Linked DNA regions of Homo sapiens: region 1 is linked to region 2. The links come from fine-mapping of genetic effects on gene expression. A gene starts in region 2. The other region holds a variant in brackets. All regions are shown on one strand. Distances are from middle to middle.

What was found. PIP is the estimated chance that this variant, and not a neighbour inherited with it, causes the effect.
Region 1: its variant is fine-mapped to the expression of KXD1 in esophagus muscle (GTEx, PIP 0.94).

Annotation. Positions count from the first base shown.
Region 1 is chr19:18,574,573-18,590,736 of GRCh38, reverse strand. UBA52 (ubiquitin A-52 residue ribosomal protein fusion product 1) reads right to left here. Exons shown (of 5, transcript NM_001033930.3): 4 at 15,765-15,867; 5 at 13,187-15,680. The coding sequence ends at 15,587. It overlaps REX1BD (required for excision 1-B domain containing), which reads right to left and starts at 1,939. Exons shown (of 5, transcript NM_001100418.2): 1 at 1,837-1,939; 2 at 1,660-1,742; 3 at 1,054-1,324. The coding sequence starts at 1,935. RefSeq lists a silencer at 1,592-2,111. The variant G/T (reference allele first, on the strand shown) is at 9,681.
Region 2 is chr19:18,552,912-18,569,075 of GRCh38, reverse strand. KXD1 (KxDL motif containing 1) reads right to left here and starts at 11,206. Exons shown (of 5, transcript NM_024069.4): 1 at 11,162-11,206; 2 at 6,919-7,040; 3 at 4,055-4,207; 4 at 1,898-1,944; 5 at 1-674. The coding sequence starts at 7,019. The coding sequence ends at 445. It also overlaps a transcript of UBA52 not described here. RefSeq lists enhancers at 6,388-6,973, 10,598-11,387, 11,388-12,179 and a silencer at 10,948-11,107.

The DNA of each region.
Region 1 (16,164 bases), 22 kb before region 2:
ACGAGGGGCAGTGCTTTGTGTAGGAAGAGTCCGAAATTCAGTTTAGAGGCTCTCTCAGAAAGGAGACAGCAGGCAGGCCAGAGGCAGTGCTGAGCGCGATGTGGGCGTGGCCTGGGAACAACAGTGACGTCTTAGCCAGGCATTGGCCGTAGGGGTGGGTTAGGTTGCGCCTCATGGTCCCAGGGACGGGGACCCAGGATAAAAGTAGGCCAAAAAGCCTGGACGCGGTGGCTCACGCCTGAAATCCCAGCACTTCGGGAAGCAGAAGAGGGCGGATCGCTTGAGACCAGGAGTTCGAGACCAGCCTTGCCCATATGGCACAACCCCGTCTCTACTAAAAAAAATACAAAATACAAAAATTATGCCTGTAATCCCAGCTACTCAGGAGGCTGAGGCAGGAGAATCGCTTGAATCTGGGAGGCGGAGGTTGCCGTTAGCCGAGATCGCGCCATTGCACTCTAGCCTGGGTGAGAGAGCAAGAGAGCAAGAGCCTGTCTTAAAAAAAAAAAAAAAAAAAAAAAACACCAGAAAGAAAAAGGCCAAAGAGACGCTGAGACGGGTCGCTCATGGGGGGCGTGGCCTAGGAATTCCAGTCACACACGGTTGCAGGGCCGAGCAGGCGGATCGCAAGAGAGAAATAGGCAAAGAACTAAAGCTGTGATGGAGGAATAATACGGAGGAGGCGTGGCCTGGGACCCCCCTCGCCTGTATCTACGGGAGGTTGAGGGTGGGACCCTAGACGCGGAACAACCAGAGTGGGTGGAGCATTGTTGGGGCGGGATCTGGGCATCTTGGAATAGCATTTAGGCGGAGCTGGGAGAAAGCGGGAGTGCTCTGGGAATAAGGACAAAACTTGGGAAAAAAATTGGGGATGAACAGCAGAGGGCAAGGTCCGAGAATCCCCAAGTGAAGCCTTAATAGAGGATTGGGGTGGGACAGGAAGGGGTGAGGTCTGTGTATGGGATACTGGGACCACCCCCCAACCAGGGGTGCGTCATGAGAGGAGCCGGCCAGGGTCCTAGAGACACGGCGGGGAAGGGGTGGTGGCCTCACCGTGCCCAGCCGCGTCTGCTCCAGCTCCTGCAGGCTGCGCACGTGGCCGGCGAGCAGCGGCTGCCTGCGAGGCCCGCCCAGCTCTGCTTCCACCGCCAGCACCTCCCGCGAGGCGGCGGCGAAGGCCTGGGTCACCCCGTGCACTGTGCTCCGGTAGCGCGCGAAGTCGTAGTCAGGGCCGCTGCGCAGGTACTGGCGGTGGCCTCTGCGGCATGTGGGGACCCTGAGGCCGCGCCCCCAGGCTCTCAGGCCCTGCACCGGCGCCAACCACCTGAAAGGCCCCCAGGAAGTGTCCCCAGACACCAGAGGGGAGGACTGGTAGGTAGGAAGGACGCTTCCTGACTCCCGCAGGGGAACGCGAGACAGGCCCACCCCTGCTCTTGGGGAGGAGAGAGAAGCCACGAAGAGTGAGTCGTCGGGTAGTGGGGACGTGCTGTGGGGCCTTTTTCGTGAAGGTGAGGACCCGGTGCCCCGAAATCCCCGCCCCATCTGACTCTGCAGCCACACAAGGACCCAGCTCCTCCTCCAGGCACGCCCGCCGAGAACACGCCCACGCCCGGAGCGGGCGGGGGACCGAACCCTGAGCCCCTCCGCGCCCCCACTCACTCCTCCAGTCGGCGGAAGCCCTGCGCGCGCTCAGCCTGCAGCTGGTGGATGCGCTGCACCAGCGTCCGGATCGGGGCGTCTTTCTGCGGGACAGGGGGCACGGCTGGGGCATGAAGCCCGCGCCCCTGGGTCTGCGCCGCCCGCCCCGCGCCCGTTCCCGCTTGGGCCTGGGCTCACCCAGGGCCACGCCGGCTCCTCGCGTCCCCGAGCTTCGGTGGCCTCCTCAGCAGCAGGCACTGCAGGGACCGTAGGCTCCGCCGCGGTCTCGGTGATCATGACTGCGCAGCCCTGGCCAGGCTCCGGAGCAGGCCCTTCCGCTGCGCCCGACGCCCCCTACAGGCCGGGAGGTCCACGGACCCCCTACCCTGCGGCCGGCCAGCCAGAAGGAAGAAAGGGGAACCAAGACCGCGGGCCGCCCAGTCAAGCCCACCCTTCTTGTTCCCGTCCAGGGCCCGCCTCCGATCGTGTTTTTCCTTGATTGTGCGGCTCTGAATACAGAACAGCTGTTAGCCTTGAGTTCGTTCCTATGCTTGTATCTCAACACCGACTTCCACTTGAAGCGGGTACTGAGCGTGGGTTTTGACGTTCAAGAGTGTTAAGTAAGCCTGGGCAACCTAGGGAGGCCCGATCTCTACAGAAAAACCAATTAGCCCGACATGGTGGCTCCCGCCTCCAGTCCCAGCTACTCGGGAGGCTGAGGTGGGAGGATTACATGAGCCCGGGAGTTGGGGGCTGCCATGAGCTATGACCATGCCACTGCACTCCAGCCGGAGCCACAGTGAGTCTGCCTCAAAAAAAGTGCAGTGGCTGGAACTCCACCAACATTAACAGAGATTCACTGGCTCTTCAGAGAATCACAGGGGTGAAGACAAGATTCAGTGACAGGGACGGTGTCAACAGCCCACCGAGTTGAATTGGGTGTCTTGTGTAATAGCCCTGAGCCTGGAGCATAGCAGGGGCCAGAACGACCTCAAAGTACAGAGGAGGCCTTGGAGCTTCCTGCTGGAGGGATACATGGGCTAGACAGAGCTTTGGAAAGCTTCCTCCTCCAGGGGCCCAGCCGGAGGAGCAGGAAGATGCTGGTAGCCTGACTTAGTGAAGAGGGACCAGCTCAGGTATGGGGTGACAGACACCAGCCTTTAAGGGGGAAGGGACTAGGCTGTTAGTGAGTTGGGAGTTTTTCTTGCCGATGGGTTCGTGGTCTCGCTAACTTTGAAGAATGAAGCTGTGGACCTTCGCGGTGTGTGTTACAGATCAAAAAGAGTCCACGGACCAGGAGAGTGAGCAGCAGGGCAGTTTATTGAACAAAGCGAAAGGAAAGCTTCCACATGCTGGAAGGGGACCCGGAAGGGTTGCCGTTGCTGGCTCCGGTGGCTAGGGCTCATATCCCTATGTTACCCCTCCCCTTTCTTTTTGTCCATTGAGAGTGGTTCTTTTTTCAATCCTCCTCTGGAGTGTTTTTTTTTTTTGTTTTTTTTTTTTTTTTTTTTTAGTGAGACAGAGTCTCGCTCTGTCGCCCAGGCTGCAGTGCAATGGCACGATCTCGGCTCACTTCAAGCTCTGCCTCCCGGGTTCACGCCATTCTCCTGCCTCAGCCTCCCCAGTAGCTGGGACCACAGGCGCCCGCCACCACACCCGGCCAATTTTTTGTATTTTTAGTAGAGGCAGGGTTTCACCGGGTTAGCCAGGATGGTCTCAATCTCCTGACCTCGTGATCCGCCCGCCTCGGCCTCCCAAAGTGCTGGGATTACAGGCGTGAGCCACCGCGCCCGGCCTGGAGTGGTTAATTCTGAATCCTTCACTCGATTGGTTAAGAACTCAAAACACTGAGTCACAGGGGTCTTCTGTGAAAGTCCCCAAACCTGCCCAGTAAATCCTGCCAACTCCACCCCTCAGTCCCCTCTCTCAACAGGAGAGCCCAACTGCTGTTGGGGTGTGGGAGGATGACCACTCTAATTGCTTCCTGCTGAATAGGGGCATAGAAGGGGTTCTGTAGCTGAGGTTTCCTCGTGAGAGGTGGTTTGGGTGTCAACGTCCGGGTATGGGCCGGCAGGCTGGTTTAGGGGTCCTTGATAATAGGTGCTGGTTGAAGTCATCTGAGGTTCCATCTGCAGTAACATTTCTAGTTTCATTGATTCTATTCAGGAAGAAACGAAAGGATGAAGGAACTGAAAAGACATGGGCCAAAGGTTACTCCTAGAATAATCATAAGGAAGGGACCTAAAAATGGAAGAAGCCAGTGGAGAACAGGCTGTGAGAACCCTGAGGTAGTTTCGGTTGTCCCACCATGTAGTCTGCTAGCTCTATCCTGAAGTCATTTAATTCCATCTCTCACTATGCCTGATTTATTGACATAAAAACAACATTCCTTGTTCAGAAAAAGGCATGTTCCTCCCCTTTCGGCAGTGAGGAGATTGGAGATCTAGTGCTCACTGGTTCTGGAGAACCACAGCTGCTAATGAGTCTATTTGGTCCTGGATTTGAGTAAGTTGGAGAGAGATTTCATCTAGGCTGTGAGTCCACTTCCTAGGTGGTAGTAAATCCTAAACCAGCCAATAGAGGAAGTAGTGAGATTGCTCTCGGCTGAAGCTTAGCATGAATGGGCACAGCTACTGCCTCTTCTGAAAAGGAATAAGTCACAGGAGGTACTATGTAGGCTAAAGTACAAGTTCCTGTCCAGTTGGTGGGGAGGCAAATATAGAAGGATCTTCCACACACAAAGAAAACTCCTTATCAGGGTTCTATACACCCCTGTAGCTGAAAACTCATAAGGGCTGTGGTCAGTCTAAATTCATTTCTCATTCCCATGATTTGAGGGTTCAGGACAAATGGGCCACTCCTAGCAGTTGGAGCTGAATAGAATTTGCCAAGGACGTATTATGGGGTTCCTGTAAGGCAAACCGGTGGCTAGCTGCATTAAGAAAAACTCTCGGCTGGGTGCAGTGGCTCACGCCTGTAATCCCAGCACTTTCGGAGGCCAAGGCTGGTGGATCACGAGGTCAGGAGATCAAGACCATCCTGGCTAACATGGTGAAACTCCATCTCTACTAAAAATACAAAAAATTAGCTGGGTGTGGTGGTGGGCGCCTGTAGTCCCAGCTACTCGGGAGGCTGAGGCAGGAGAATGGTGCAAACCTGGGAGGCGGAGCTTGCAGTGAGGGAGATCGCGCCACTGCACTCCAGCCTGGGCGACAGAGCGAGACTCCATCTCAAAAACAAAACAAAACAACAACAACAAAAAGAAAAACTCGCGCACCCCAGACAGGAAGCAGGAAGCAATGGGGTTTTTTTAACCCTTTGCCTGTGAGAGAGGAACCAAGTCCCAGGAGGGGGATATCCTGGGCAAAAGGAAGTCTGCCCCAGCAGTAATTGCTTGTTGTTTTGGCCTCTGGTGGGGGAATTATTTGGCTTGGGGTGGTAAATCTTAAGGGATAGGTGACTGAAATAGGGTTTCCAAGGAACTCATGTTTATTTCCACAAAACATTGGGGTGCCAGTAGTCGTACTGTAAGAATTAGAATATTTGAACTCTATATCCAAGGCAAGCTATAGTTGCAGCCAGCCACGTGTCCCACACCTTGTGATCATGGGAACACTTGATGGGAGATACAAAGGAGTGGAGGCGAAGAGAAGGAGGTTATTGTGCCCACAGAACCTATGATTGGGATAGCTGATAGAGCGAATTGTCGGAGAATGGCGGCGGCTGCTTTTAAGGCTGCTTGAGCCCTGTCAGGGAAATTGGACCTATCACTAGGATGAAAAAATCCTGGACCCTTAGAAGTGTTAGCTATGTATGAGGCCTCAGAGCTTTCCACCCATATGTTGAGGGGGGCCGGAACTGCTGTATATAAGGGGGAAATTAGGGTTCATGCAAACCCAACAGGATGAGTTACTCTGATTGGGAAGTGCTTCAAATAAAAACCTGGAGGACATGTTTATAATTCCCTCAAGGTAGGCCGGGCACGGTGGCTCACGCCTGTAATCCCAGCACTTTGGGAGGCTGAGGAGGGCAGATCACGAGGTCAGCAGATCGAGACCACGGTGAAACCCCGTCTCTACTAAAAATACAAAAAATTAGCCAGGTGTGGTGGTGGGCGCCTGTAGTCCCAGCTACTTGGGAGGCTGAGGGAGGAGAATGGTGTGAACCCGGAAGGCAGAGCTTGCAGTGAGCCGAGATCACGTCACTGCACTCCAGCCTGGGCGACAGAGCGAGACTCTGTCTCAAAAAAAAAAAAAAAAAATAATAATAATAATAATAATTCCCTCAAGATTAGGGGAAGACATTGAGCGGGGAAAGGTTAAGACTTGGGCAAAGGCAAGGAATGTTAGGATGTTAGAGTACATTCTGTTTTTAAAACAAGAACTGAGGTAGAACTTATGAGCACTGATTAATTTTCCTTCTGAAAGAGGATACATAAGTCTTCCAATGGCTCGTGGGTGTAAGAAGGTTTGTCTGGCTGACTCTTAGATTCCCAAGCTAATGATTCTGCGGGTTTTTCAGGCTGTATCCAAGGTTTGATTCAGGTGTGATGGATCCAAGACTCCACTCCAATCACCTTGACTGCAGTTGGAGTGGAGAGGATAACCAAATATGGTCCTTCCCACGATGGATCTAGGGATGGGGAGGTAGAGGGGAGGGACTTGACTAATACTAGATCCCTGGGATGGAACGATGCTTTTCCCTTTTCTCGGTGGCATCCCTCGGGTAATGTCTTTAGGATTTGCTGGTACCTAGCCAAAGAAGTTATGTCCTTGACCAAGTTGGCAGTTTCTCAATCAAGTAAGAGGTTGTTTGTGAGAAAAGGCTGTCCATATAGCATTTCATAAGGACTGAGTCCTATCTTGTGGGGAGAATTTAGGATCCTTAATAATGCTATGGGCAAGAGGGTGAGTTTCCATGGGAGGTGAGTTTCTTGTGTTAATTTCCTTGAGTGCCTTTTGAGTGTTTCATTAATCTTCTCGACTTTCCCTGAGGATTGTGGTCCCTGGGCGCAATGAAGGTGATTTTTTTTTTTTTTTTTTGAGGGAGTCTCGCTCTGTCGCACAGGCTGGAGTGCAGTGGTGCAATCTCGGCTCACTGCATGCTCCATCTCCCGGGTTCACGCCATTCTCCTGCCTCAGCCTCTCGAGTAGCTGGGACTACAGGCGCCCACCACTACGCCCGGCTAAATTTTTTGTATTTTTAGTAGAGACGGGGTTTCACTGTGTTAGCCAGGATGGTCTCGATCTCCTGACCTCGTGATCCACCTGCCTCGGCCTCCCAAAGTGCTGGGATTACAGACGTGAGCCACCGCGCCCGGCCAATGAAGGTGATATTGTATCCCTAGCGCCTTGGAAATTCCCTGAGTCACTGTGGCTCTGAAAGCCGGGCCATTATCACTTTGTAAACTACAGGGAAGTCCAAACCTAGGAATTATTTCATGGACCAGGGCTTTGATTACCTCCTGGGCCTTTTCTGTCTTACAGGGGAAGGCTTCAACCCAATTCGTGAAGGTATCAACACAGGCTAGTAAGTATTGAAGTCCCCGTGACTTAGGCATATAAGTGAAATCTAACTGCCAGTCCTCTCCAGGGTAGTGCCCTGTCCTTTGTTCTCCATGAGGGGCTTGGCAATGGACCAAGGGGTTATTCCTTTGGCACACTTCGCAGGCCTTGACTGTCTGCCGGATGGTTTTAAGGAGGTCTCGTCCAGTGAACAGAGATTTGACCATTTGATGGGTATTCTCAATACCCCTATGGAATGTTTGGTGAACGGTTTTAAGTATTTTCCATTGATTAGCTGCGGGTATGGGCACCTTTCCCTCCTGAGTAGCTAGCCACCCCGAGGGGAGAAAACTATGTCCCCATGAAAGTCCCCATTCCATTTCTGCAGGGGAATACTGGGGCCTGGTCTCCTGAAGGGGGTTATCCCATACCAAGGGTCCCTCCATAGGTGTTTCTAATGGGAGGTCCCGTCTTGCGGCAACTTTGGCCTCAGCGTCTGTGCAGCGATTTCCTTTTGCCTCCTTTCCTTTGCCTTTCTGATGGCCTTTGCAGTGCAAGGCCACTACCACTTCCTTGGGTTTCTGCACTGCCTGTAATAATTTCATAATTTCTTCATGGTATTTAATGGGTGTTCCTCCGGAGGTTAGGAACTCCCTTTCTTTCCATATGGCAGCATGGGCATGTAGAACTAGATAAGCAAATTTGCTCTCTGTATATACATTTATACTTTTTCCCTTTCCCAGCTCTAAAGTTCGGGTAAGCGCCACTAGTTCTGCTAACTGGGTGCTGGTCCCTGGGGGAGGGGCCCACTTTCAACTACTGCTTTATCACTAACCTATGGTATATCCTGCCCTTTGTAATCCCTTTTCTACAAACGAACTTCCATCAGTATATATATAGGTTGAGGTCAGGGTTGGCTAAGGGGACCTCTAAAAGATCCTTCTGGGCAGCATAAGTTTGGGTTAAGAGCTGCACAAGTGCGCATCTGAAGCACCAGTCCCTCAAGTAATAAGGCCTGGTACCTAAGTAGGCGATTGTCTGACAGCCACAAACCTCCTTTAGCAGTTAGTATGCCGTTGACATCGTGAATAGTCCATACAGTGATGTCTCTCCCTTGTATTATTTTGACAGCCTCTAATACTAAAATGGCCACTGCAGCTACCACCTGCAGACAGTGAGGCCAGTCCTTTGCTACCACATCAATTTCTTTACTCAGATATGCTACTGGCTGTATGGTAGTCCCTCAAGTCTGGGTAAGGACTCCAAGAACTATTCCCATTCTTTCTGTGACATACAAAGAGAAATTTTGTCCCGTAGGTAGACCCAGAACTGGGACTTGTGTTAGGGCCTGTTTTAGGGTTCTGAAGGCTGCCTCTGCCTCTGGTCCCCATTCTATCAAATGGGTATTAGCTTTTTGGGTCTCCTTAATTAGAGTGTAAAGTGGCCTGGCCATTTCGCTGTATCTGGGGATCCACAGTTGGCAAAAGCCAGTTATTCCAAGAAACCCTGTCAACTGTTTTAATGTCTGAGGGTGAGGATAAGCCAGTATAGACTGGATAGGTTTTTTGTTGAGAGCCCTGGTTCCTTTAGCCAAAACCAGCCCTAGGTATTTGACCTGCTGTAAACAAAGCTGGGCCTTTGATTTAGATACTTTGTAACCTCGATCAGCTAGAAAGTTTAAAAGGCCTTGGGCTCAAATGTAATCCCAGCACTTTGGGAGGCTGAGGTGGGTGGATCATGAGGTCAGGAGATCGAGACCATCCTGGCTAACAAGGTGAAACCCTGTCTCTACTAAAAGTACAAAAAATTAGCCAGGCGTGGTGGCAGGCGCCTGTACTCCCAGCTACTCGGGAGGCTGAGGCAGGAGAATGGCATGAACCCAGGAGGCGAAGCTTGCAGTGAACCGAGATTGCGCCACTGCACTCCAGCCTGGGCAACAGTGCAAGACTCCGTCTCAAAAAAAAAAAAAAAAAAAGTCTTGGGTAGCCTGATGGCACAGGGTCTCTCAACGGGAGAAGTAAGTCATCCATATATTGAAGAATTAGGGTACCTGGGTGCAAGAAGTGACTTAAATCTTGGGCCAATGCTTGGCCAAACAGGTGAGGGCTATCTCTAAATCCTTGGGGCAAGACTGTCCAGGTGAGCTGAGATGTTTGATCTGAGGGATCCTCAAAGGCAAATAGGAATTGAAAGTCAGGGTGTAGAGGGATACAGAAAAAGGCATCTTTAAGATTCAGGACTGTAAACCACTCTGCTTCTTCTGGTATTTGAGAGAGCAATCTATAAGGGTTGGGTACAGCTGGGTATAAAGGAATTATGGCCTCATTTATGAGCCTGAGGTCCTGCACCAACCTCCATTGACCATTTGGTTTTTGTACCCCTAGAATTGGGGTGTTACAGGTGCTGTTACAACTTCTTACTAGACCTTGGGCTTTTAAATTTTTAACAATACCTTGTAATCCTTTTCGAGCTTCAGGTCTTAGGGGGTATTGTCTTTGGTAAGGGAAAGGGGTGGGGTCTTTTAGTTTGATTTGGACT[G/T]GACAGGCGTTCTTTGCCCCTCCAAATTGTCCTTCTAATGCCCAAACCTCAGGGTTGATTCCTTCCTCAAGTAGGGGACAACAGATAGGTCTTTTCTTCCCTGTATTCATACAGATGATAGCTCCTGATTTAGCTAATATGTCCCTCCCCAGTAAGGGTATGGGATTCTCAGGCATGATGAGAAAGGCATGTGAGAAAATTAAGGTTTCCCAGTTACAGCTAAGGGGGCGGGAGAAATACCTGGTTACAGGTTGTCCCAGGATCCCTTGGATGGTAACAGACCTTGAGGACAGCCATCCAGGGCAGGACAGTGGAACTGAGAAGGCTGTGCCAGTGTCCAGAAGAAAGTCGATTTCCTGGCCCTCAATGGTCAAACTTACCCGGGGCTCTGTGAGGGTGACAACACGAGCTGGTGCTTGCCCCGGGCACCCTCCATCCTGTTGCTGGATCATCTGGTTGGGGACTTCTGGCCCAGAGAACCTTTGTCCTCTGGGACAGTGTGCCTTCCAGTGATCACCTTGGCATAGTGGACATGGGTGAGAGGGCGGCTTATTTCTCTTTGGACAATCTTGTTTAAAGTGTCCTTGTAAACTGCACTGATAATAAGCCCTGCTGGGTGATTGGCCTGCTCCATTTTTTCTCCTCTTTGAACCGCCAAGGTTTGTCTGAGGGCATGACTAAATCTGCAGCCTTTCTCTTATCCTGCTTTTCCTTTTCGGCCTGTTCCTCTTGGTCCCTATGATAGAACACTGAGGTTGCCAGGTTTAATGATGCCTCCAAATTTTGCTCGGCCCAAGGCTAACTTTTGGAGCTTTTTCCTAATGTCTGCAGCTGACTGAGTAATAAATTTGTCCTTTAAAATTAACTGGCCTTCGAGGGAATCTGGTGACAGGGGAGTATATTTTCTCAAAGCCTCCCTCAGCCTTTTGAGGAAGGCAATAGGGTTTTCTTCCTTCCCTTGGGTTATAGTAGACATCATTGAATAGTTCATGGGCTTTTTCCTAGTTCTCCTTAACCCTTCTAGGATACAGGTCAGTAAATGTTTGTGACTCCAGTCCCCATGATCCGAGTCAGGGTCCCAGTGGGGATCCATACTGGGGACTGCTTGCTGGCCAGTAGGAAACTGCTCTCTTCTGATGTCATTCTATCACTTACTTAACTGAGGTACCAGGTATCCCCAAACTCTCGGGCTCCTGTTAAAGCAGCATTCTTCTCATTAGAGGTTAGGTCTGATCAAGCAATAACATGATCTCTCTCCAGGAAAGGTCAAAAGATTGTCCCAGACCCAGCAGGCCATCTACGTATCTATTGGGGTCATCTGAGAACTTTCATCCAAGTCTGCCTTAATTTGCTTTAGATCAGAGAGAGAAAAGGGAACATGTACTCGGGTTGGGCCAAATTCCCCTCCTACAGCCTGAAGAGGACATAGCCAGGGGCCAGTGGGGTCTCTTGGCTCTCTGAAGGCTCTTTTATTTGTTCCCTTTTGGGCTGTAGAAGCCAGAGAGGGTTTGGCATTAGTAGGAGGAGCCGTGGGGAGGACTGGGTATGGGGGTAGAATTTGAGGACTCCCTGTGGGGTGCAGGTTACATGTCTTACACAATCGTGGGTTATCATCCCTTAATGAGAAAAAGGTCTGAACATATGGTACCTAAATCCACTTGCCTTCTTGTTTACAAAACAGATCTAGTTGCAGGATGGTATTATAGTGTATACTTCCCTCAGGTGGCCATCGTTCTCCTCCTGGAAGAGGATATTGTGGCCAGGCAGTGCTGCAGAAAAATATGAGCTGCTTCTTCAATGTCTGGGGATCAAATTGGTCCCAGTTATTCAGAATACACCTCAGGGGCGACTTCACTTTGGAGGGAAAATCTCCCATCTGAAAGGAAAGCATAGGGATGCCCGCACCCCTAGTCATTCCCAGTGGACACTGGTTCTAGCAGGTCCCCTACTGTTTTAGTGTCCATTTTCCAGGGTGCACAATCACCCATGGAACCCTGCTTATCAGATTTAATTGTGCTTACCGACGTAGCAGTTTCAACCACATTCTTTTCCCTCCCTTCTTAGCCACAAAGAAGGAGGCCAGGCTGCTGGGTTTAGCGGCCTCTTACCAGTGCGCCCGAAAGTTTTTGTTCCAGTGAGTGGGTTCTAAGTTTGGGGTGTATTCTTAGGTGGTTTACAAGGCTCCAGTTAGCATATTTCTGAGCTTGAAACTGCCCCAGTAAGATGAACTCCTTAAAGATTGTACATAGACATAGCAATTTTAAGGCGGGGGGCAACAGGGGATTGGGCCAAGGCTGAAATAGTGTCTCATGCACTACAGCCTTTTGTCCCCGCTTTCCATCTTAAGAATACTACTTTTGATCTCCCAGTCGATGGTCTATTATTTTACTTAACTCCCACAAATGCGAGTGGTACCCTGAGTGGAAGAGCTCCGTAGTTTGGATTGCTGATCCTAAACAAGAGAAATGATAGGTGAAATGGTTCCCAGTGAGGTGGGGACGACAGAAAGAGAAATGGCCTAAGCCTTCCAGTAACCATTGGCACACACTATATTGTCCTGGGTATTGCCTTCGGTGTCGAATATGGGGAACAGGTCCTGTATATTTGCATTGTTGCCCATCTACATTAGAATAAGCCATGGGGGCCGGGCGCAGTGGCTCACGCCTGCAATCCCAGCACTTTGGGAGGTCGAGGCGGGCAGATCACGAGGTCAGATCGAGACCAGTCTGACCAACATGTGAAACCCCATCTCTACTAAAAATACAAAAATTAGCCAGTCATGGTGGCACGTGGTGCCTGTAATCCCAGCTACTCAGGAGGCTGAGGCAAGAGAATTGCTTGAATCCGGGAGGTTGAGGTTGCAGTGGGCCAAGATCGTGCCGCTGCACTCCAGCCTGGGCGTCAGAGCGAGACTCCATCTCAAAAAAAATAAAAAAATAAGCCATGGCACATCAGGAACACAGATCTGAGGGTTGCCATCCTAATTGTTTTAGATTCCTAATCCAGAGGGTTTTCATCCTGGGGGTAGAGAGAATCCTGGAGACAAGTTCTCAAGAAAGTCTTCCTTATAGACGTTTGGACCTAGGAGGCATGCCTCTCGAAGGGTGGGTGAAGTGCGTTTGGGTGGCTGTTTAACAAAGGTTTCACAAAGCGCTGTCATCTCGACTGGGCGTTACCAGGAGCTTGGGGCCACTGTTTTCCACCCTTGGCCAGCCCTCGGTTCAACCCAGAAAATGCAGAGAAAGTGGGAACTGGTTTCTAGGCAAAACAACACTCTCGATTCAGAAGGGCTGGGGGTTGTTAGAGAGCCCTTTCTCAGATACCCTTACATCTGTGTCTTTAGTCAGGCGGCGGCACTTGTCGCTTTTAAATGGCCGACAGGTGCCCGGTGTTTGCCCTCAATTCTAAAGAAAAGTAGAGCAGAGTAGCAAGCGAAAGAGGTCCGATGTTACCGCTTTGGAAATCCTGGGTGAGCCCCCACGATGAGTCAGTTTCTCCTGCCGATGGGTTCCTGGTCTCGCTAACTTTGAAGAATGAAGCTGCGGACCTTTGCGGGGAGTGTTAACAGTTCAAAAAGAGTCCACGGACCAGGAGAGTGAGCAGCAGCTGTTTATTGAATGAAGCGAAAGGAAAGCTTCCACATGCTGGAAGGGGACCCAGAAGGGTTGCCATTGCTAGCTTGGGCGGCTAGAGCTCATATCCCTGTTACTCCCTCCCCTTTCTTTCTTTTTGTCCATTAAGAGTGGTTCTTCCTTCAATCCCCCCTTGGAGTGGTTAATTTTGAATCCTTCATTCGATCAGTTAAGAACTCAAAACCCTGAGTCATGGGGGTCTTTTGTGAAAGTCCCCAAACTGGCCCAGGAAGTCCCGCCAACTCCACCCCTCATTAGGATGCATCACTGGCCTCGTGCACCGGCTTCACCAGCACTGCACCCTAATCAAAACAGGGGCCAGCAAGGTGCCTCACCCCTGTAATCCCAGCACTTTGGGAGGCTGCGGCAGAACTGCTTGGACCCAGTGCAAAACCATTCTGGGCAACATAGCGAGACCATGTCTGTAAAAAAAAAAAAAAAAAAAAAAATGTAGCAAGGCCAGGCGCTGTGGCTTACGCTTGTAATCCTAGCACTTTGGAAGGCCAAGACAGGTAGATCACAAGAGGTCAGTAGTTCAAGACCAGCCTGGCCAACATAGCAAAACCCTGTCTCTACTAAAAACAGAAAAACTAGCCAGGCGTGGTGGTGGTGGCGCACACTGGTAATTCCAGCTACTCAAGAGGCTGAGAAAGGAGAATCGCTTGAACCCGAGAGGCAGAAGCTGCAGTGAGCCGAGACTGCGCCACCGCACTCCAGCCTGCACGATGGGAGCAAGGCTCCATCTCAAAAAAAAAAAAAAAAAGTGATAAAAAACCAAAACTAAACAGGAGGCTTTTAAGTTCAGGAGTTTGAAGCCAGCCTGGGCAACATAGCAAGACCCCATCTCTACAAAATATTAACCGAGTGTGGTGGCACAAGCATGCAGTCCCAGCTACTCGGGAGGCTGAGGCAAGATCCTGGGAGATCAAGGCTGCAGCAAGCTATGATCCTACCACTGCACCCCAACCTGGGTGACAGTGAGACTGTCTCAAAATTTTAAATCAGTAAATAAAACAGGAATTGGTCTGTGCTCACCCCATCTAAAAAACTCTTGACCTTATGATTTGCCCACCTCAGCCTACTGATCATTACAAGCTTTAAAAACACCAAAGCAATTATCTGAGTGTGGTGGTGGGTGCACACCTGTAGTCCTGGCTACTTCGGAGGCAAAGGAGAGAGGATCACCCAAGCCTGAGTTCCAGGGTACAGGGAGCCATGACCACACCACTGCATTCCAGCCTGGGTGACCTTAAGGGGAAAACACCAAGGGTTGCCCTTCTTAAGAGTGATTATCATAGGAGAGGGTACAGCTCAGGGGCAGAGCACTGACTGCAGACCATGAGTGATGTCACGGCCTCAGATTCAAAACTGAGTAACTGGGCCAGGCGTGCTGGCTCACGCCTGTAATACCAGCATTCTGGGAGGCCAAGGCGAATGGATCACAAGGTCAGGAGATCGAGACCAACCTGGCTAACCCAGTGAAACCCCGTCTCTACTAAAAATACAAAAAATTAGCCAGGAGTTGTGGCGGGCACCTGTAGTCCCAGCTACTCGGGAGGCTGAGGCAGGAGAAGGATGTGAACCCCGGAGGCAGAGGTTGTAGTAAGCCGAGACTGCGCCACTGCACTCCAGCCTGGGCGACAGAGCAAGACTCCGTCTCAAAACAAACAAACAAACAAACAAACAAAAAACTGAGAACTGGGTCAGGCATGGCAGTTCTTGCTTGTAATCCCAACACTTTGAGGGGCTGAGATGGGCGGATGGCTTGAGCCCAGGAGTTCAAGACCAGCCTGGACAACATAGTGAGACCCCATTTGTATAAAATAAAAAAATTTGAGAATCAACGTTCTACACCATTGGGTGTACCTAATTTTCTACCCATCTCCACACACCTAGACACTTCAGGGCCAAGGCCTGAGGGACACCTCAAAGTGCCTGACAGGATCCCAGCAATGACAAAACTGATCCTCAGTCCCACCAATTACACGACTGAGGTTTTTACTCCAGTTTTACAGATGACAAATCCAGAGTCAGGGGCATAGGGCAGGGACCAATGCCGATGTGACAGAATCTAGGACAGAAGACCCCACAGGTGGCACAGAATGGAGTGCTGAGTAGAGTCCCTAAGGGAGATGCCCACTCTTCAGCCACCTCCCTGGACAGATCAGCCATGAGGACACCAATTGCTGCTCCAGTCAATGAAAGGGACACTTTATTGAGGCTCCAGGGCCACGGGGCCTGGGCAGGAGGCTGCCCTTCAAGGAAAGAACCACCTTATTTGACCTTCTTCTTGGGACGCAGGTTGTTGGTGTGACCACACTTCTTCTTGCGGCAGTTGACAGCACGAGGGTGAAGGCGAGCATAGCACCTGCACAGAGACAGGAGGGGTGGGTGAGGGCATACCCCGACTCCGGCAGCCCCCACAGCCCCCCAAGCATCGGAGCACACATACTTGCGGCAGATCATCTTGTCGCAGTTGTATTTCTGGGCAAGCTGGCGGAGAGAAGGCTCAATAATGCCACCTCGCAGGCGCAACACCAGGTGCAGGGTGGACTCTGCAGGAGACAGCCAGAAGGACGGCGACTGAGCCCAGCCCTGGCTCCTCAGTCACAGGGGCAGGACCCTCCAGGGCCTATAGTCTGCTGCTTTCTCAAGTGTGATGGGGACACCAAGTCGGGATCCCCCGAGTGTTCTACGTGTGGAAGATACACTGTCCCAGCCAGCCTGCCCCAGGAAATCTCCATCTCAGCACTGACCACGAGCCCTGGGGGGAGTCTGAGACTGACACATGCCAACTGAGGCATCCATCTGGGTTTCTAACATGGAAGCCGACCTCTAAGTGGTTCAGGCAA
Region 2 (16,164 bases):
AAGCAGAATTAGTGGGTGCGGGGGTGGGCTGGGGTGAACTCAGAGGAGACCGTGCTTGTGCACCTCAAGGAGGTCCTGACCGGTGGTGGGGGACATCTGGCTCTGGTGTCTGGGAACCTTCTAAGCATTCTTCAGAGCAGACGTCAGGCTCAGCTCTGGAAAAATTCCCCTGTGCCCAGCCCCACGACTCCAGCTGGAATGGGCGTGCCCTGGCATGGCAGAGGGGTCTTGCAGAATAGAGATGTTCTGAGGAAGGAAGGAGCCAGAATTAAAGACCCCCCCAGGAATTCCACACCCCTCGGGAGAGAGCCTTGTCCCCCTAGGAGCCCTGGGTGACAGAACGGGGCAGCAAAGGAGCCCTGGATGACAGAACAAGGCAGGGTTACCCGCTGCCACCTTGTATGCTGCTGCCCTGAGACCCCCTCAAGGCACCGGGCAGCAGGGCTATTCGCCCGTCATCTCCTCGTCATCTGTCTGGCTGCGGCCGTTGATGGCTGGGGAGCCAGGCTGGACATGGGACAGGTCCTCGAAGCCGGGGCTCAGGGAGGGCGAGACGGTGTCGGGGCTGGTGTCACATGAGCCCGTGCTCTGTTCTGAGGTGGCAATGGTGGTCGTGGTGCTGGGTGGGATGGGGTCTTCATCCTCTTCCTCCAGGAAGGATGCCTCTGGGATATCTGGGGGAAGGAGGCCCAAGAGTTGGTTTTGTCACCTTGCCAAGCTCTGTGATGTAGGACTTATTGTCCATGTGACCCCTAACGGCTGCCCTCACCCCATGGGGGTATGACTTGACCCTTTTTTTTTTTTTTTTTTGAGACGGAGTTTCGCTCTTTGCCCAGGCTAGAGTGCAATGGTATAATCTCGGCTCACTGCAACCTCCGTCTCCCGGGTTCAAGCGATTCTTCTGCCTTAACCTCCTGAGTAGCTGAGACTACAGATGCCCATCATCACGCCCATCTAATTTTGTATTTTTACTAGAGACGGGGTTTCTCTATGTTGGTCAGGCTGGTATCGAACTCCCGACCTCAGGTGATCCACCCGCCTCAGCCTCCCAAAGTGTTGGGATTACAGGCATGAGCCACCGCGCCTGGCAGACTTGGCCCATTTTTATTTTGTAGAGGAGAAAACTGAGGCCCAGGCAGGGAAGAGCCCTCCCTTCAAGGTGAGGTGAGGAAGGGACACAAGATCTGGGGTTAGGCCTACAGGAGCCCTGAGGGCGAACCTGGCTCACTGCACTACCTGGGCTAGGTATATGACCTCCCCTCAGCCCAGCTCCCTGCTCTGTAAACTGCTGTTGGAGGCCCTGGGATGGAGAGCTGTCGGCCTTTTCAACAGATGGTGTGAACCCAGGCTCAGCCTGCAGAGCCCTTTAAGGTGGTGGCAACATGGAATGGTACCCCAGAGAACACGCGAGCTCTCTAGCCAGACAGATGCGAACTCAAGTCCTGCCCCTCTGGGCCTCTGTTTCCCTCTCCATGAAACGGTGATACTCACAGTCCCCACCCCATGGGTGACTGTGGGTAACAGCTGGACATGGGACAGATCCTCGAAGCTGGGGCTCAGGGAAGGCGAGACGATGTCGGGGCTGGTGTCACATGAGCCCGTGCTCTGTTCTGAGATGGCTCATAATGCACACAGGGATAAGGATTGTCATGCTGCTTATCCACATTCTCCTGTGCGGCCTCCCCACGGGGCACGGACTCCCGTCCTAGTGCCCACTCTGCCAGCTGCTGACAGGACCAGGCCAGCACCCTGACCCTGCCCCCACCCCAGGTTTCCCCAGACCCACTGCCCATTACAGCCTGGTCTCAGTATCAGGCCCCAAGGTGGCCTTCCAGAAGCCTGCCCTGGGTGGAGAGTGCTGACGTGCTCGGGAGCAGGAACCCTGCGTGACACTTACGGCTGAAGGCCTCTGGGTGCTGCCTGGCCAGTTTCCCTTTCAGCGTCCTGCAGGGGAGAGAAGGCACACAGGGCTTAACCTGCTGAGCAGGTAGGCTGGGCCTGGTGCTGGCCACAAGCCCCTGCTGCCAGCTGAGGGCAAGGGGAGACGGGAGTGAGAACCCCCACACTGTTCATCACCTCACATCTTCACTCTCTCTAGGTGCTCGGCCCAGCAGCCACGGCCCTGACAGTCGCCCACCAGCCGGCCTCCAGCCCCAAGGTAGGCACCAACCCCCAACTAGTTAGACTCTGGGTGCTCTGAGCCTAGGCACTGGCTGGGGGCTCCCCCTGCGAGGCTGCTTCTTACATGTGGCCTCTTCTCTGATAAATTTTTTTTTTTTTTTTGAGACAGAATCTCACTCTGTCGCCCAGGGTGGAGTGCAGTGGTGCCATCCTGGCTCACTGCAACCTCCACCTTCCGGATTCACATGATTGTCCTCCCTCAGCCTCCCAAGTAGCTGGGATTACAGGCACGTGCCACCATGCTCAGCTGATTTTTTTGTATTTTTAGTAGAGACGGGATTTCATCATGTTGGCCAGGCTGGTCTCAAACTTCTGACCTCAGGTGATCTGCCTGCGTCAGCCTCCCTAACTGCTGGGATTACAGGCATGAGCCACTGTGCCCAGCCATTCCTGCCTTTTCATTATGTGTCTAGCACTATGTTACTTTTTTTTTTTTTTTGAGACGGAGTCTCGCTCTGTCGCCCAGGCTTGAGTGCAGTGGCGCGATCTCGGCTCACCTCCTGGGTTCATGCCATTCTCCTGCCTCAGCCTCCCGAGTAGCTGGCAATACAGACGCCCACCACCACGCCCAGCTAATTTTTTGTATTTTTAGTATTTTTTGTATTTTTAGTAGAGACGGGGTTTCACCATGTTAGCCGGGATGGTCTTGATCTCCTGACCTCGTGATCCGCCTGCCTCGGCCTCCCAAAGTGCTGGGATTACAGGCATGGGCCACCTCGCCCAGCCGCACTGTGTTACATTTTTTAAGAATAAATAAACTGCAAGGCTGGGCATGATGGCTCATGCCTATAATCCCAGCACTTTGGGAGGTCGAGGTGGATGGATCATCTGAGGCCAGGACTTCGAGATGAGCCTGGCCAACATGGGGAAACCCTGTCTCTACTAAAAAAATACAAAAATTACACAAAATACAAAAATTAGGCTCACACCTGTAATCCCAACACTTTAGGAGGCCGAGGCAGGCAGAGTGCTGGAGCTCAGGAGTTTGAGACTAGCCTGGGCAACACGGTGAAATCTCGTCTCTACTAAAATACAAAAAATCAGCTGGGCGTGGCAGCATGCGCCTGTAGTCCCAGCTACTCAGGAGGCTGAAGCAGGAGAATCGCTTGAACCTGGGAGGCGGAGGTTGCAGTGAGCTGACATTGCACCACTGCACTCCAGCCTGGGCGACAGAGCAAGACTCCACCTCAAAAATAAAACAACAACAACAAAAATTAGCTGGGTGTGGTACAGTATGTCTGTAGACCCAGCTACTCAGAAGGCTGAAGCACAAGAATCGCTTGAATCCAGGAGGCAGAGGTTGCAGTGAGCCAAGATCACGCCACTGCACTCCAGCCAGGGCCACAGATCAAGACTCTGTCTCGGCCGGGCGCAGTGGCTCACGCCTGTAATCCCAGCACTTTGGGAGGCCAAGGCGGCTGGATCACGAGGTCAGGAGATCGAGACCATCCTGACTACTAACACGGTGAAACCCCATCTCCACTAAAAATACAAAAAATTCTCCAGGCGTGGTGGTAGGCACCTGTAATCCCAGCTACTCCGGAGACTGAGGCAGGAGAATGGCGTGAGCCCGGGAAGCGGAGCTTGCAGTGAGCTGAGGTCGCGCCACTGCACTCCAGCCTGGGCAACAGAGCGAGACTCCGTCTCCAAAAAAAAAAAAAAAACTCTGTCTCGATCAATTAATCAATCAGTAAATAAACTTACGTCAAGATTTTATCCCAGGGTTGGAATTGTCCCAGACACTTAAGTGCGCAGTGAAGCCTTGTAAAACAAACAGAAATCTCCCTTTACCCTGGTATGTGAAGGAAACTGAGGCTCAGATGGGGAGGTGGAGGCAGAGGTCAGCTGGGCTGGGGTGGCACTGAGCACCCACCTGATACGGCGGAAGATGCTGTCCAGGTCCCGTTTCATCTCTACTAGGGTCCTCGTGTGGTGCAGGAAGCGTTCGCTCATCTGCTGCAGGCGGGCACTGGACAGGTTGTTGAAGTTGAGCAGCATCTCATTGGTCTTCTCAAAGCGGTCCAGCCTGATGGTGGAGAGAGGGCATGAGCTTCACTGCCCAGCTTCAGGGCCCTGCCCAACCTGGCCCAGAAGACTGTTCATGCCAAGCCCTTGCCTGCTTCACAACCTTTGCATGGGCTGTTCCCTTGTCCTGCAGAGTTCTACCTACTCTTTGAGCCACCTAGCAAACTCCTATTCAACCTTCAAAACCCTACTCAAGTGTGTCCTTCTCATGTAGCCTTGTCTACCTCTATTCAGTCAGACTTTTTTTGAGACAGAGTCTTGCTTCGTCACCCAGGCTGGAGTGCAGTGGCGCGATCTCGGCTCACTGCAAGCTCCGTCTCCCAGGTTCATACCATTCTCCTGCCTCAGCCTCCCGAGTATAGCTGGGACTACAGGCGTCCGCCACCATGCCTGGCTAATTTTTTGTATTTTTAGTAGAGACGAGGTTTCACCAGGTTAGCCAGGATGGTCTCGATCTCCTGACCTCGTGATCCACCCACCTCGGCCTCCCAAAGTGCTGGGATTACAGGAGTGAGCCATCGTGCCTGGCCCAATCAGACTCTTTTAATTCCACTAGCCCCAGGTTGTTCCTCTGGCCCAGCCCTGACACCATAGGGCCAGGAGGGTCTGTGTCTGGCTTTGTCTCCCCTCAGTCTAGAAGTTTCCCAGAGCCAGGTCTGAATCTGACCTAAAAAAACAGGAGACCAGCCGGGCATGGGGGCTCATGCCTGCAATTCCAGCGCTTTGGGAGGTCAAGGCAGGCAGATCATGAGGTCAGGAGTTCGAGACCAGCCTTGCCAACATGGGAAAACCGCGTCTCTACCAAAAATACAAAAATTGGCTGGGCATGGTGGCGGGCGCCTGTAATCCCAGCTACTCGGGAGGCTGAGGCAGGAGAATCATTTGAACCCGGGAGGCGGACATAGCAGTGACCTGAGATTGCGCCACTGCACTCCAGCCTGGGTGACAGTGCGAAACTATGTCTCAAAAAAAAGGAGACCAGCACTTTAGGAGGTTGAGGCAGGGTGGATCACTTGAGGTCTGGCCAACATGGTGAAACCACATCTCTTCTAAAAATAAAAAAATCAGGGCCGGGCACGGTGGCTCACACCTGTAATCCCAGCACTTTGGGAGGCTGAGGCGGGCGGATCACGAAGTCAAGAGATTGAGACCATTCTGGTCAACGTGGTGAAACCCCGTCTCTACTAAAAATACAAAAATTAGCTGGCCGTGGTGGCGCACACCTGTAGTCCCAGCTACTTGGAAGGCTGAGGCAGTAGAATCGCTTGAACCCAGCAGGCAGAGGTTGCAGTGAGCTGAGATTGCGCCACTGTGCTCCAGCCTGGCGAGAGAGCGAGACTCCGTCACAAAAAAAAAATCAGCCAGGCATGGTGGTGCATGCCTATAATCCCAGCGACTCAGGAGGCTGAAGCAGGAGAATCACTTGACCCAGGAGGCAGAGGATGTAGTGAGCAGCAATTATGCTATTGCATTCCAGCCTGGGCGACAGAGTGAGACTCTGTCTCCCAAAAAAAAAAAAAAAAAAGACACAGGAGAGAGACAGGTACTATTGAGACTCGGAGCTGCTCTGGGTCTGGGAGAAAAGGTAAGGAAATCAGGTCTGTACTGTGTCGTGACAGCTGAGAAGAGCCTCTGGCTCAGAGACACAAAAACAAAGCTGCGGGAGGCTGTGCTTCCACTCCAAGACTGTATTAGCCCAGTGGTGTCCAGTCTTTTCATTTCCCTGGGCCACATTGGAAGAAGAATTGTCTTGGGCCACACATAAAATACACTAACACTAACGACAGCTGATGAGTTAAGAAAGAAAAAGAAAAAAATCACAAAAAAAATCTCGTAATGTTTTAAGAAAGTTTACGAATTTGTGTTGGCCCACATTCAAAGGGTTGGACAGGCCGAGGGTTGGACAAGCTTGGTATTAGCCTTTCTTCCCCACAGGGCAGGCCTGAATTAGGGCAAGGTTTCAGCAGCCACAGCACCAAACCCCAGTGAGGACAAGAGGCCTTTATGTCCGCTCCAAGAGACCCTGGGCACTGTGCAGACACAGCCTGGGCTCTGGGAGACTAGTCCTTCACCAGGAAGTAGGCGCACCAGCATAAAACCTGCATAAAGGCCAGGCACAGTGGCTCAGGCCTATAATCCCAGGACTTCGGGAGGCCGAGGCGGGTGGATCACTTGAGGTCAGGAGTTCGAGACCAGCCTGACCAACATGATGAAAGCCCGTCTCTACTAAAAATACAAAAATTAGCTGGGCATGGTGGCACATGCTTGTAATCCCAGCTACTCAGAGGGCTGAGGCAGGAGAAATCGCTTGAACTCGGGAGGCGGAGGTTGCAGTGAGGCAAGGTCACACCATTGCACTCTAGCCTGGGCAACAAGAGCAAAACTCTGTCTCAAAAACAAGAAACAAATAAACAAAAAAACCTGCATGTGGCCCCCTCTGGTCCTTCAACTCTCCCACCCCAGGTCTCGGGACAGGAGCCCCTGCGGCCCCCGCCAAGCCATCCGCAGCTGCAAAATCTCCCCAAAGCCCTGCTTCCTGTGCCAAGGCCTCGCCTCCAGGCCGGGAAGGAATTTACTTTGGAGCCAGCGACAGATTTGCTCATTTCCTTCATTTTATCACCAGTGTGGGCCCCGGGTAGGGGCGGGCAAGACAAGAATGTTGGCCAGCCTGTGGATTCCTTCCCACGCTCAGGTCCCCCAGCCGCCACTCACATGTTCTTCTGGGCCAGGATGATGGCGTTGACATCATCTGTGTTCACCATGCTCAGGATGCGGCCGCAGAAGACCCTCGAGGCCGAGTCCGGGAGGTCCATCTCTTTCTCCTCCTCCGCTGCCTGAAACAGGCAAGAACAGAGTGGTCTGCACTAGTCACCAGGTGAGGTGGGACCAAGAGGCCAGGCCGGGACCGCCATGTGCTGGAACCTAACCCAACCGTGGTGGTATCCTACAGTGGGGATGTGTGACTGTGGCTCAGTCATGCCACCTGAACCTCAGGTGTGCCACCCCAGGAATTTGGAGGTATTGGGCAAACTAAGAGAGGTTGTATTTGTAAACTGTACCCAAGCACATTAGAATCCCATCACCTCCCACTTCCATGAGCCCAAGGCCACAGGTACCTCTCACCTGCACAGATCTGCCAGCTTCCTCCCTCATCCCCTGCCTAACAACTGCTGTCCTCACAAGCTGAACGTGTGTGGCTGCTTCAGCAAATCATCACCACCTCCAATGTCTCCTCTCCCAAGAGGTCAATGACTCCTGTTCCCGTCACTCTTACCGCTTCTCTTACTACTTGACCTCGTTTTTTTATTTCTTTTTGATACAGAGTTTCACTCCTGTCACCCAGGCTGGAGTGCAATGGCGCGATCTTGGCTTAGCGCAACCTCCGCCTCCCAGGTTCAAGCGATTCTCCTGCCTCACCCTCCCAAGTAGCTGGGATTACAGGTGCCCGCCACCACGCCTGGCTAATTTTTGTATTTTTTAGTAGAGACGGGGTTTCACCATTTTGGCCAGGCTGGTCTCGAACTACTGACCTCAGGTGATCCACTCGCCTCAGCCTCCCAAAGTGCTGGGATTACAGGCATGAGCCACCGCGCCCAGGCTACTTTACCTTGTTTTTGTTTGTTTGTTTGTTAAGAGACAGGGTCTCGCTATGTTGCCTAGGCTGCTCTTAAATTCCTAGGCTGACACGACCCTTTTGCCTTGGCCTCCCAAAGTGCTAGGATTACAGGCCTGAGCCACTGCGCCCAGCCACCCTTTACCTTGATTTAACTGCTTCACTGGTTCACCTCTTCATGAAATTATCCTAGTTATCAGCTAACCCGTTTGCCTGTCACCGCCACAACGTCAGCTCCAAAAGAGCAGAGGTGGCCAGGTGCTGTGGCTCACGCCTGTAATCCTAGCACTCTGGGAGGGCGAGGCAGGTGGATCACGAGGTCAGGAGTTCGAGACCAGCCTGGCCAACATAGTGAAACCCCATCTCTACTAAAAATACAAAAATTAGCCAGGCATGGTGGTGGGCACCTTTAGTCCCAGCTACTCGGGAGCTTGAGGCAGGAGAATCACTTGAACCCAGGAGGCGGAGGTTGTGGTGAGCCAAGACTGTGCCACTGCACTCCAGCCTGGGCAACAGAGAGACTCCGTCTCAAAAAAAAAAAAGAAGGAGTAGAGGTGTGTCTGTCACCAGAACCCGACCCGGAGTCTGGCTCATAGCAAGGGGCTGCCAGAATGTTGTTGTGGGGAAGGGCAACAGAACTTTTCAAACTCAGCTCTGACGTGACACTTTTATTAGCAAATTAAAGCCAAGAATTGCAGGTACTCACAGCCAACCTGTGGGCCCCAGCAATCCAGATGGTTCTGAGGTTCCCAGTTTTGCTGGCACACAGATGACCGTAATGGCAGGCAGGGACTTCCCGGAGCAGCCAGGGTAGGAGGGGCTACAGCACTGACCCTCCTAGGGAGTTCAGGAAAAATCTAGGATCTTGATATAGTTTGGCTCTGAGGCCCACACATTTAATAGCCAAGAAACAGAGACGAACTTCTACTGGATCAGAAAGGGTTTCAGAGGCCGGGTGTGGTGGCTCACGTCTGTAATCCTAGCACTTTGGGAGGCCGAGGTGGGCAGACTGCTTGAGGTCAGGAGTTCAAAACCAGCCTGGCCAACATAGTGAAACTCAGTCTCTACTAAAAATACAAAAAAAATTAGCCGGGCATGGTGGCGGGCACCTGTAGTCGCAGCTACTTGGATGGCTGAGGCAGGAGAATGGCTTGAACCTGGGAGGCAGAGGTTGCAATGAGCCGAGATCATGCCACTACACTCCAGCCCGGGCGACAGAGTGAGACTCCATCTCGAAAAGAAGGAAGGAAGGGAGGGAGGGAGGGAAGGAAGGAAGGGAGAGAGAGAAAGAGAGAGAGAAGGAGAGAAAGAGAGAGAGACAAAGAGAGAAAGAGAGAGGAGAGAAAGAGAGAGAGACAGAGAAAGAGAGAAAGAAAGGAAAGAGAAAGAAAGGGTTTCAGAGCTCACTTAATGTACTCTCCCATTTATTCAGCAGCTACTCTATGCTAAACAAAGCATCAAGCTCATACATACTGTTATCATTCTTATTTATAGATGAGAAAACTGAGGCTCAGGGACACTGAGAAACTGGGCCACTGTCACACAGCCAGTGAACCTAAGTCACAACAAACGGCCACAGCCCACGGGTCTCACAAAGGTGTGAATCTGAACAGGTGCACAATATCCAGCTGTGACAGGACAGTGGCTTCTTACAGCAGCTGATTTCTGCCTGACTTCTGATGTTTCTCCAGGAAAAAGGAAACAGGGATTTTTTTTTTCTGGGAAATTGCCTCATTGACAAATGTCAGCAATCAATACTTTTTTCCAAGATATCATGGAGGCCAAGAGCATCTATTTGTGATCTGTATCTGGTCAGTGGTTTGCAGCACCTTCTAGAAATAAGGTGCCACACCCAGCAAAACCCCCTTCCCTCTAATAATAACTATGGTTATTGAACTCCTATGACATGCCATGCAGAGACACCCAGTCTCCACATTCCCAAAGAAGCATGATCTTGTATAAAGAGGATACCTGGACCGGGTGCTCATGCCTGTAATCTCAGCACTTTGGGAAGCCAAGGCTGGTGGATCACCTGAGGTCATGAGTTCAAGACTAGCCTGGTGAACATGGTGAAACCCCCGTCTCTACTAAAAATACAAAAATTAGCCAGGCATGATGGCGGGCACCTGTAGTCCCAGCTACTCAGGAGGCTGAGGCAGGAGAATCGCTTGAACCCGGGAGGCAGAGGTTGCAATGAGCCAAAATCAAGCCACTGCATTCTAGTGTGGGCTACAGAGGGAGACTTCATCTCAACTGAAAAAAAAAAAAAAAAAAAAAAAAAGACACCTGGAGAGGGAGGCCCATAGCTAGTACCAGTGAGACACAGTACTGGGACCTTCTGGGATACACTCCTCCTTCAAAACAGGACTCTTTTCTGTCTCTGGCTCCCAGATGTGAGGGCTGAGGGGTTCCTGGCACCTCCCTCCCGTCCCCCCGCAACTTCCTCTCCCAAGAAGCCTTCCCTGATTACTGCTAGTCTGGCCCACATACACAGTGAAATTGACCCAGCAAGAGCTCTGATCCCAACTCCAAATGTAGATTTATTGAAGAAACGCAGAGAGGTAGGCTGTTTGACCATGGGAGAGCCACTTCACCCTTCTGAATCAGTTTTTTCAACCATAAAATGAAAATAAGGTAGAATGAAGATCTCACAGTGCTGTCTGTGGCAACTGAAACCAAAGGTGATAACGACTGGAGCTCAGGACAGGCTGTTTCTCCAAGAGGAGTGTGAAGAAGTCCCGGGAATCAACATTTTGAGAGCATCCCAGGGGCCTCTAAGAATATATTACGGGCAAACACTTGTAGAGCACTTCATTTCATCCTCAATCACCGTTACGAGGCAGACACAATCATCTCCGAGTGAAACTGAGGCTCACAGGGGCGGGCTCCGTTGCCGAAACTCACAGGGAGAGGCAGAGAAGCACCACGGTTCTATATCCAGGTTATTTAACAGAATTTAACTCAGCCATCCAAGCTCTGAAAAACCCCAAGTGGGGAGGGGCTCAAATATCCCCTCACGCCCCGTCCCCTACAATACAGGGAAACTGAGGCACAAACCGGGCAACGCCCAGCTCCAGGTTACACGACACACCCAGAACACAGGAGGCCCCAATTCCTATGCCCCTGATCCGGATCCAGATCCAGCCCGTAGCGCCGCCTGCGTATCCATTGAGCAGACGGGGAAACTGAGGCCTGTGCGCAGCAGGAATGACCAGATGTGGCCAGTGGCGCACCCCACCCCACCGCAGCCCGGGGGCCGCGCCCGACCCGGACCGGTTCCCCGCGGCCCTGGAGTCCCCAGCCCCACCCCAAACTCGGCCCCGGCGTCGGTAGCGGCGGCACCTGCACATCTGGCGGCCTTGCTCGCGCTTCCGGGATGGCGCCCGCGCCGGCGAAACGTCACCACGCACCGATCCTGCGAGCGCGCGTGGCGGGGACGTACCCTGGAGCCGCTTGCGTGCGTTAAGTCACGACAGGAAAGGGCGGGGCTTAGACGGAGCTTCAGCTCGTGGGTGCATCACAATGAATAGCCAATCAAACAATTCATCTCGCGCCTGCGTATTTCCAGAAGCCCAGGCTTGAAAGCGGCCCGGAAGAAGGAAGGCTGAGAGAAGTGTCCCATTTTGTAGATAGTGTGACTGAGGTCCCAGAGTGGTAACCCTCCCCAAGGTCGTAAATGCTACAGTGGTCAGAGGCCAAACCACACTCAGGTGTCCTGCTTTCCAAGCAGGGAATTAGACTCATCTGTGTTCAGACATCCCTGCTCCACTTTTGCTGATTTTTTTGGTCCAAGTTTCCTTTTTTTTTTTTTTTTTTTTTTTTTGAGACAGAGTTTCGCTCTTGTTGCCCAGGCTGGAGTACAATGGCGTGATCTCGGCTCACCGCAACCTCCGCTTCCCAGGTTCAAGCGATTCATCTGCCTCAGCCTTCCGGAGTAGCTGGAATTACAGGCATGTGCCACCATGCCCGGCAAGTTTTGTGTTTTTAGTAGAGACAGGGTTTCTCCATGTTGGTCAGGCGGGTCCCGATCTCCCGACCTCAGGTGATCTGCCCGCCTCGGCCTCCCAAAGTGCTGGGATTACAGGCATGAGCCACCGCGCCCAGCCCTGGTTTCCATTTACACTTCCACGTTGTTTTGGAGTAATGCGCTGGGGAATTTTTTCAAAAGGGTTTACAGGCTGGGCGCGGTGGCTCACATCCTGTCATTGTAATCCGAGCACTTTGGGAGGCCGAGGCGGGCGGATCACGAGATCAGGAGTTCGAGACCAGCCTGACCAACATGGTGAAACCTTGTCTCTACTAAAAATAAAAAAAATTAGTCGGGAGTGGTGGCGGGAGCCTGTAATCCCAGCTACTCAGGAGGCTGAGGCAGGAGAATCGCTTGAACCCAGGAGGCAGAGGCTGCAGTAAGCCAAGATCGCACCACTGCACTCCAGCTTGGGCGATAGAGCAAGACCACGTCTCAAAAAAAAAAAAGAAGGTCAAGCTAAAAAATGAAGAAAATGTATTTTAAGTTCATGTTAGTTTGTGTATACGAGTACCAAGTTTTTGTAATAAAATGCCTCACAGCTACAATTGGAAAAAAAAAAAAAAACGGGCCTGTGGCCCGAGCCTGTGGTCCCAGTTTCTCAAGAGGCTGAGGTAGGAGTATCGTTTGAGGCCAGGAGGCAGAAGTTGCAGTGAACGAAGACCCCACTCCAGCCTGGGCAACAGAGTGAGACCCAGTCTCAAAAAACAAACAGGCCCGGCGCAGTGGCTCACGCCTGTAACCCCAGCACTTTGGGATGCCAGGCGTGTGGATCACCTGAGGTCGGGAGTTTGAGACCAGACTGGCCAACATGGTGAAACCCCGTCTCTACTAAAAATCCAAAAAAAAAAAAAAAAAATTAGCCTGGCGTGGTGGCAGGTGCTATAATCATAGCTACTCAGGAGGATGAGGCATGAGAATCTCTTGAACCTGGGAGGCGGAGATTGCAGTGAGCCGAGATTGTGCCACTGCACTCCAGCCTGGGTGACAGAATGAGACTTTGTCTCAAAAAGCAACAACAACAACAACAACAAAAATCGCTATAAACTGATGTGGATTAATAAATCCACATCATTATAATTATAATTATTTCCTTTCCTGCCCCTTTAAATTAGCTCCTGGCTGGGTGCAGTGGCTCACGCCTGTAATCCCAGCACTTTGGGAGGCCGAGGCGGGCGGATCATGAGGTCAGGAGATTGAGACCATCCTGGCTAACATGGTGAAACCCTATCTCTACTAAAAATACAAAAAATTAGCCAGGCGTGGTGGCAGGTGCCTGTGGTCCTAGCTACTCGGGAGGCTGAGGCAGGAGAATGGTGCAAACCCGGGAGGCGAAGCTTGCAGTGAGCAGAGATCGAGCCACTGCACTCCAGCCTGGGCGACAGAGCAAGACTCCGTCTCAATAAATAAATAAATAAATAATAAATAAGCTCCTGTGTCCTTTTAATATGTCGCCACCATTCTCTGAGCATTATTTATCTTGGGCTCCACAACATGATCCAATGCTGTGTAAAATCCCTGGAATCAGCCATTTCTCCAAGGAACCTGGTTCCTTTGCTTCAAGAGTAGGATTTAGAAACCAAGATCAGTCGGGGCTCAGTGATTCACGCCTGTAATCCCAGCACTGTGGGAAGCTGAGGTGGGCAGATCAGGAAGTCAGGAGTTCGAGACCACCTGGGCCAACATGATGAAACCCCCCCATCTCTATTAAAAACACAAAAAAATTAGCCAGGCATGGTGGTGGGCACCTGTAATCCCAGTTACTCGAGACACTGGAGAATCACTTGGAACTGGGAGGCAGAGGTTGCAGTGAGCTGAGATCACCCACTGCACTCCAGCCTGGGCAACAAGAGCGAAACTCTGTCTCAAAACAAAAAAGAAAGAGGCCGGGTGTAGTGGCTCACTCCTGTAATCCCAGCACTTTGGGAGGCTGAGGTGGGCAGATCACCTGAGGTCGGGAGTTCGAGACCAGCCTGACCAACATGGAGTAACCCTGTCTTTACTAAAAATACAAAATTAGCCAGGCATGGTGGCACATCCCTGTAATCCTAGCTACTTGGGAGGCTGAGGCAGGAGAATCGTTTGAACCTGGGAGACAGAGGTTGCAGTGATCCGAGATCACACCACTGCACTCCAGCCTGGGCAACAAGAGCGAAACTCCATCTCAAAAAAAAAAAAAAAAAAGAAAGAAGGAAAGAAAGGAAGGGAGGGAGGGAGGGAAAGAAGGGAAAGAAAGAAAGAAATTAGCCGGGTGCTGTGGCTCATGCCTGTAATCCCGGCATTCTGGGAGGCCGAGGCGGGCAGATTACCTGAGGTAAGGAGTTTGAGACCAGCCTGGCCAGCATGGTGAAACCCCGTCCCTACTAAAACACACACACACACACACACACACACCACACACACACAATTAGCTGGGCATTGTGGTGCACACCTGTAGTCCTAGCTACTCGGGAGCCTGAGGCAGGAGAATTGCTTGAACCCAGGAGACAGAGGTTGCAGTGAGCCAAGAACACGCCACTGCACTCCAGCCTGGGCAACAGAGCAAGACTCCATCTCAAAAAAAAAAAAAAAAAAAAAAGGCCGGGCACGGTGGCTCATGCCTGTAATCCTAACACTTTGGGAAGCCAAGGCAGGCAGATTGCCTGAGCTCAGGAGTTCGTGACCAGCCTGGGCAACACAGTGAAACCCTGTCTCTACTAAAACACAAAAAGTTAGCCGGGTGTGGCAGCGTGTGCCTGTAATCCCAGTTACTAGGGAGGCTGAGGCAGGAGAATGGCTTGAACCAGGGAGGCAGAGGTTGCAATGAGCTGAGATTGCGCCACTGCACTCCGGCCTGCGGGACAGAGTGAGACTCTGTCTTCAAAAAAAAAAAATTAAACTAAGATCTGGGTGCTGTGTGTGCTCATTGCTGCTGGGGTGTCACTGCTTCTAGAGGTACCCGTCAGCAGGCACAGCTAAACAATAAGCCAGGCGTGGTGGCACAAACCTGTAATCTCAGCTACTCAGAAGGATGAGGTGGGAGGATCACTTAAACCCAGGAGTTTGAGGCTGCAGTGAGCTGTGATCAAGCCACTGCACTCCAGCCTGGGTGACAGAGACCCATTCTCCAAATAAATACAAATCATGAAGCTGGGTGCAGTGGTTCATGCCTGTAATCCTAGCACTTTGGGAGGCCGAGGCGGGCAGATCAGTTGAACTCAGGAGTTTGAGACCAGCCTGGGCAACATGGCAAAAGTCTGTCTCTACAAAAAATACAAACATGGCCAGGTGCACTCCTGTAATCCTAGCATTTTGGGAGGCTGAGGGGGGCAGATCACCTGGGGTCAGGAGTTTGAGACCAGCCTGGCCAACATGACGAAACCCTGTCTCTACTAAAAACACAAAAATTAGCTGGGCGAGGTGGCGCATGCCTGTTATCCCAACTACTTGGAAGGCTGAGGCAAGAGAATCGCTTGAACCCAGGTGGCTGAGGTTGCGGTGAGCCGAGATCGTGCCGTTGCACTCCAGCTGGGTGATAGAGTGAGACTCTGTCTCAAAAAACAAAACAAGTGGCCAGGCGCGGTGGCTCAGTGGCCAGGTGCAGTGGCTCAAGCCTGTAATCCCAGGACTTTGGGAGGCCGAGGCAGGTGGATCATGAGGTCAGGGGTTTGAGACCAGCCTGGCCAACATGGTGAAACCTCGTCTCTACTAAAAATACAAAAATTAGCCAGGCATGGTGGTACGTGCCTGCAATCCCAGCTACACACAAGGCTGGGCAGGAGAATCACTTGAACCCAGGAGGCGGAGTTTGCAGTGAGCTGAGATCGCGCCATTGCACTCCAGCCTGGGTGACAAAGTGAGACTCTGTCTCAAAACAACAACAAAAACAAAAACAAAAACATTAGCTGGGCGTGGTGGCGCATGCCTGTAGTCCCAGCTACTCAGGAGGCCGAGGTGAGATCACCCGAGTCCCAAAGGTGGAGGCTGCAGTGAGCCGTGATTGCACCTCTGCACTCCAGTCAGGCAACAGAGCAAGACCCTGTCTCAAAAAATAAAAAATAAATACAAACCATGAATTCATACGGAGATGAGGATGCCTTTTCTTTTTTTGAGACAGAGTCTCGCTGTTGTTGCCTGGGCTGGAGTGCAATGGCGCCATCTCGGCTCACTGCAACCCTGCCTCCCAGGTTCAAGCAATTCTCCTGCCTCAGCCTCCTGAGTAGCTGGGATTATAGGCGCCCACCACCATGCCCGGCTAATTTTTTGTATTTTTAGTAGAGACGGGGTTTCACTATGTTGCCCAGGCTAGTCTCAAAGTCCTGACATCATGATCTGCCTG